Regions from separate parts of the Homo sapiens genome. Here region 2 is linked to region 1. The links come from fine-mapping of genetic effects on gene expression. A gene starts in region 1. The other region holds a variant in brackets. All regions are shown on one strand. Distances are from middle to middle.

Region 1 (3,000 bases):
TGACCCAGATCAGGGATTCCAAACACCCATGGGGCCCCTGGTCCCGCCCTGAAGCCAATTCCAGCTGCCCCCAGGAGTGTGAGGGGCCTGGGGGTGTCTTCCTGGGAGCTGCCAGGTGTGAGATTGACCCAAGAAATGGGACCACAGGAACCCAAAAAGCTACAGCTGGGTGGCCAGGTCCACCATCCACGCCCTCAGGTCCACCAGCCACGCCCTCAGGTCCAGTCTTCTAAAGGTCAAGGGTCTCTGACCAGGTGGAGCAGAGCACGTGACTGGGCAGCTCTTCTCTGCCTGGAACGCCCATCTTCTGTCTTGAGGCAGAAAAATCTATTTTAGAGGGTTTCCAGGCCTGGCTCCTCAGAGGTGCGGGAAGATGTTCAGAGCTGAGACTCTGGAGGGAACGGAGGGGCAGGGACATCCCAGCCTCATCCACAAAGGCCCCCTGCACGACGATCCTCCCTCCCGCTCTGCTCCTCTGCTCCCCGCTCCTTCCTCCTTCCTCCCCGCTCCCTCCTCCCCACTCCTCCTTCCTCCCCGCTCCCTCCTCCCCACTCCTTCCTCCCCGCTCCCTCCTCCCCGCTCCCTCCTCCCCACTCCTCCTTCCTCCCCGCTCCCTCCTCCCCACTCCTTCCTCCCCGCTCCCTCCTCCCCACTTCCTCCTCCCCAATGCTAGAAACAGGCCCCTCCGCACCTTGCCCTGGCTGCAGAACGCAGCTTAATTACATGGTCTGCGGGTTGGGGCCCTGAGCGAGGCTGGGGCTGGTTCTTGGCCAAGACGCCTCCCCAGCCGGCTCAGCCTCCATCAGAAGCGGCAGCTCTGATTGGCCACCGTGCACCGCGTGGAGCGCCGTTCCTCGCAGCGAGTTCATGAGGCATTTCACTGGGGGCCCGGGCACCCGCCTTGACATCAATTACGCCAAAATTAAGTGGCAGCGTCCACTGCGTGGGGCCCGAGCTGTGGGGCCTCTTCCGTCTCCCGGAGCCCAACCGCGGGCCCCTGCGCCCCGGCAGGCAGGATCTCACCGCAGGGGCGGCGGTGGGGAGGGGAGGTCAGGCCCGCTTCCCCGGAGCGGCCCGCAGCTCCCGGCCCAGGTTCCCAGGCTGCAGCGTGAGGGGCGCGCAGCGGGGCCGGGTGGGCTGGGGCCGGCGCGGAAAGCCCTCGCCCTGAAAGCCCAGGCCGGCCCCAGCCCACGGCGCTCGCGCCCACCGTGCCGCGCGGGCCACCGCCCACCCGGGGGCTGGTTAGAAACGCGGACTCTGCCCCTTCGCGCCGCCTCCGGGGCTCACGGGCGCCCGAGTCGGAAGCCCCGCCCTGGGGAGGCCGGTCTCCTCGCGAGGGCCTGGGCCGCTCTGGGCGCTCGGCCCGCGTGTCGGGGGCTCCCCGGGGCGCCCTGGGCTCCTGCTGCTGTTTCTTCCTGGCCGGCCTTGAGGTGCGGAGCCCCCGGGCTCTGCTGAGGGCCTCCCGGCCCCGTGGCCTCGGTGACCTCGGTTCAGGCGTCCGTGACCGTCTCGCCTGGTGGCTCCGCGCCGCTGACCTCGGCACGCCGCGGGCCTTCCTCCTCTTGCGGACCGGAGGGAGAGCCGGGCGCAGAGACCGAGGCACAGTCGCGCGGCGCGGCGTTCCGCGTGACCCTGCGGTTAAAACCCGCGCGCTGCAGCATCGCGGAAAACGGGATTCGCCTCATTTGAAACTTGAGGAAAATCTCTAAACACTTTCATTTTGATAGAAACCATTTCCGCCGCTGACGTGCGTCTACGCCCATCATTTCAGCTGACACGTTGCTGTAACGTCTCCTCCGTTTCATGCTCTTTCGAACCCTGTCAGCTGCGGGTAAGACTGTAGAAAAGAGAGGGGAGAACAGGGCCCAGCCGGTGGCGCCGGCGTCTTAGCAGCCGATTGCGCAGCTCCCGGGCGCGGCGGAGAGTCCGGGCTCGTGGGGAGCGCCGGCTCCAGAGCCCGCGGAGCAGCAGCCCAGACTCCCAAGACGGAGGGCACCGGGCGGGCGCACACACTAACCCACGCAGGGGACACTCAGGCTCTAACTCACGTGCACACACGCTCACATGTACACACGCACACACGCACCCGGACGTACACACACAGCTGTCGCCTACCACACACATTCATACTCCATTCACACTGCAGGATGTGCAAATGTGTGTGACAGAGAGAGGAGGGAGAGAGAGGGGGAGAGAGAGGGAGAGAGAGGGAGAGAGAGGGAGGGGGAGAGAGGGAGAGGGAGAGGGGGAGAGGGAGGGAGAGGGAGGGGGGAGAGAGGGAGAGGGAGAGAGAGAGGGAGAGGGAGAGAGAGGGAGAGAGAGGGAGAGAGAGGGAGAGAGGGAGAGAGAGAGGGAGAGAGAGAGAGGGAGAGAGAGAGAGAGAGAGAGAATGTGCCTCTCAGGAATGGTCAAATATCCTCCTGACACACCTGGTTGGCCCAATGCAGGGACAGAGAGGGGGATGACCTGATGGCTTTGCCTTCCACCCACCCAGCGCCTGCCCATCAGTACAGCAGGGCTGCCCTGCCCGCCTGCGACCCACCTTTCCCGACAGCCTGTGTGCTTTCTCCCCGAGTCTCCAGGACAGCCCACTAGTGGCATGGCGGTTCCCTGGGTGGGAGGAGCGGAACCCTTCAGGCCCCCTCAACACTCCCCCAAAACCTCCCTGGGGGCCCCCACTGGCTTCAGCGCCCTGCAAAAGGCTGACTAGGATCCATGTGCACACTCCGTGTGCCACTGCTGCCAGGGCCCCCAGCCCCAGGCTGCCTCCCTCCCTCTCTGTCAGGAGCTGGGTTGGCCTGGGAGGGTTGTGGTGCCGCTGACTGCTCCCGGGCAGGGGCCATCTCATCTCTGTTCTCACCGTGCAGGCAGCAGCAGGAAGGGAGGCAAAAGGAGGGAGTGGGGAGAAGGAGGGGGCGCTGACCACATGAAGAGACGCTTCTTCCCTGGTGCTCCATCTCCCTCCCCGTCCCCCAGTGGACACCCTGGACCAAGCTGAGC
Region 2 (2,684 bases), 630 kb after region 1:
CGCTCTCCAGGCCCTGCGTCCTGCGGCCGCGCCAGGCCCGTCCTTCCCAGGCCCCCACCGAGCTCACCCCGGGGACCTCCGAAGCCCGGTCGGGGAGGAGGTGGGCTCGGCGTTGTGACTGCCCCGGGGATGACGCGCTGGCCTCTCCCATCCCCGCGGTTCCTCTCCCTCGGGTTCGGGGACCCGCCCCGCGAACGTCCCGGGCTGGGGACTGGGAAGCGCTGCCCGAAGCGGCGGCACCTGCCCGGCATAAGCTCGGGCGCTGGCGGAGGGCGCAGAGCTCCCGTGACCTCCACACCTGTCCCTCTTCCCTGCAGGTCAAGACCACGCCTGGGAGGATGTACCAGAGCCTGGCGCTGGCCGCGAGCCCCCGCCAGGCCGCCTACGCCGACTCGGGCTCCTTCCTGCACGCTCCGGGCGCCGGCTCTCCGATGTTTGTGCCGCCGGCGCGCGTCCCCTCGATGCTGTCCTACCTGTCCGGGTGTGAGCCGAGCCCGCAGCCCCCCGAGCTCGCTGCGCGCCCCGGCTGGGCGCAGACAGCCACCGCGGATTCGTCGGCCTTCGGCCCGGGCAGTCCGCACCCCCCAGCCGCGCACCCGCCCGGGGCCACCGCCTTCCCTTTCGCGCACAGCCCCTCGGGGCCCGGCAGCGGCGGCAGCGCGGGGGGCCGAGACGGCAGTGCCTACCAGGGCGCGCTGTTGCCTCGAGAACAGTTCGCGGCCCCGCTTGGGCGGCCGGTGGGGACCTCGTACTCCGCCACCTACCCGGCCTACGTGAGCCCCGACGTGGCCCAGTCCTGGACTGCCGGGCCCTTCGATGGCAGCGTCCTGCACGGCCTCCCAGGCCGCAGGCCCACCTTCGGTGAGTGCGGGGGCTCCACAGTCTCGGGGCCCAGGAGCGGCCGAATCCGGGTGCAAACCCGCACCCTGCGAAACGCTCCCCTCATCCTCCCCCACGGTCCGAGCCTCCCTGCCAGGAGCGACACCAGCAGCCCCGGGGCGAGACGAGTAAACCTGGGTAACACCCCGCACGGGAAACACCCATCCAGAATTCTGTTTTAACCTGTTAATGAGAAGGAACATCTATTTCCAAACAGCATTCCGGATTGTGCCAATGTGGAGCCTCAAAAGTCTTAATCGTTTTTGTTTTTGTTTTTGAAAAGTTTTGGAAACGATTTTTATAAAGCCCAAAACATCGGTTTATTTAAGTGGCCACATTCGTCTCGGTTCTAGGA[C/T]GTTTACTGATTTTAATTTGAGACCTGGTTTCAGTCGCTTCCCGAGTATCAGTTTGGAGAATCGGATTCTCGGCCTGTGAGGGGAGCGGCTCTTCCCGGTTGCAGCGTAGTCACTTTCTGGCGAAGGCGGCTCCTCTGAGCTCCGCAGGGGCCCATCCCGTCCCTCCGGGACCTTGGAGGCCTCGACACCCAGCTCCGGAGCTGCCTTTGGGACCCCGCCGGCCCTTTGGCGCAGGAAGCGGGCGCAGCGGCATCCGCAGGACCCCTGGCCCCCGCCTCCCTGGACAGCCCGGCTGCTGGCGCCCACCCCCGGCGGGGCGATGATTGATCCCTGCCCCACCCCCACTCGGCGCCCGGGCCTCCCTCGCGCCGGCGCCGGGCCGGGCCTGGAGGGGACCAGGAAGACCTCCACCCCCAGCCGCACAGTGTGCGAAGCCCGGCCCCAGGGGGCTGTGAGGCGGGGCTGGCCTTCTAAAGGAAGGACACTGGTTGCGACCACAGCCAAGCTGACAGAAGGCACCTCCTCCACCCTCCCAACCCCCCACCCCTGTCATGGACCCGCTTTGCAGAACAGGAGGACAGCGGGGTTAGCGTTCCCAGGAGAGCCCAGGGGCGCCCAAGAGTGTCTGCCAGATAAAGCCCCTTCATCCCTCCCCTGCCAGTGTAGACACCACTTCATCCACCTCCCCCGCCAGTGTAGACACCCTGCTTTCCCAGCAGGTCAAACAGGCAGAGGCCAGTGCTGGCCCCCGGTCCCGGAGCCGGGAGTCCCAGGTGTCTGTCTTCAGGTTCTGTTTATTAACACCCCATCCTCGAAAAACCAACCCTAGCGAATTTTATCGTATGTGAATTAAAAATTTAAAAATAAGATGAAGTAAGCAAATAAATTTTAAAATAAAATACATCTAAGGCACAAGATTTGTGCCTTAAGTTTATTCGTCTGACGAAAGCCGCCAGGCTCCTGGGGAGGGGAGGGTGCCGGCCCATGAGCTGGGGAGGATCCTGGGGAGGGGAGGGCCCGGGCCCACCAGCTGCCTGTCCCCTCAGTGTCCGACTTCTTGGAGGAGTTCCCGGGTGAGGGTCGTGAGTGTGTCAACTGCGGGGCCCTGTCCACACCGCTGTGGCGCCGAGACGGCACCGGCCACTACCTGTGCAATGCCTGCGGCCTCTACCACAAGATGAATGGCGTCAACCGGCCGCTCGTTCGGCCTCAGAAGCGCCTGGTGAGTTCGGGCTGGGCAGAGGGGCGCCTGGGCGCAGTGCTCCCCCGAGGGGACCTCTTGCAATCCACCCAGGTGACACCAGAGCCCCTGGGGTAGGGGGTAGGGAGTGTCCCAAAAACAGCCTGGGTGCCCGCCCCGGTGGGTCAGGTCAGGCCGGCTCAGGTCTTCTTTGAGAGCGCTCAGGGCAGGGCAGGGGATCCCAGTGGGGATGCCAGGGGCCACCAGCT

The links.
Region 2: its variant is fine-mapped to the expression of HAR1B in anterior cingulate cortex (GTEx, PIP 0.97).

Annotation. Positions count from the first base shown.
Region 1 is chr20:63,100,946-63,103,945 of GRCh38, reverse strand. HAR1B (highly accelerated region 1B) reads left to right here and starts at 1,627. Exons shown (of 3, transcript NR_152601.1): 1 at 1,627-1,831. It overlaps HAR1A (highly accelerated region 1A), which reads right to left and starts at 2,654. Exons shown (of 2, transcript NR_003244.2): 1 at 692-2,654; 2 at 1-391. RefSeq lists a silencer at 1,189-1,578.
Region 2 is chr20:62,473,176-62,475,859 of GRCh38, reverse strand. GATA5 (GATA binding protein 5) reads left to right here. Exons shown (of 7, transcript NM_080473.5): 2 at 318-861; 3 at 2,282-2,457. The coding sequence starts at 339. Among named protein-coding and RNA genes, the nearest start is that of GATA5, 1.5 kb to the left of the region's middle. RefSeq lists an enhancer at 1,597-2,257. The variant C/T (reference allele first, on the strand shown) is at 1,235.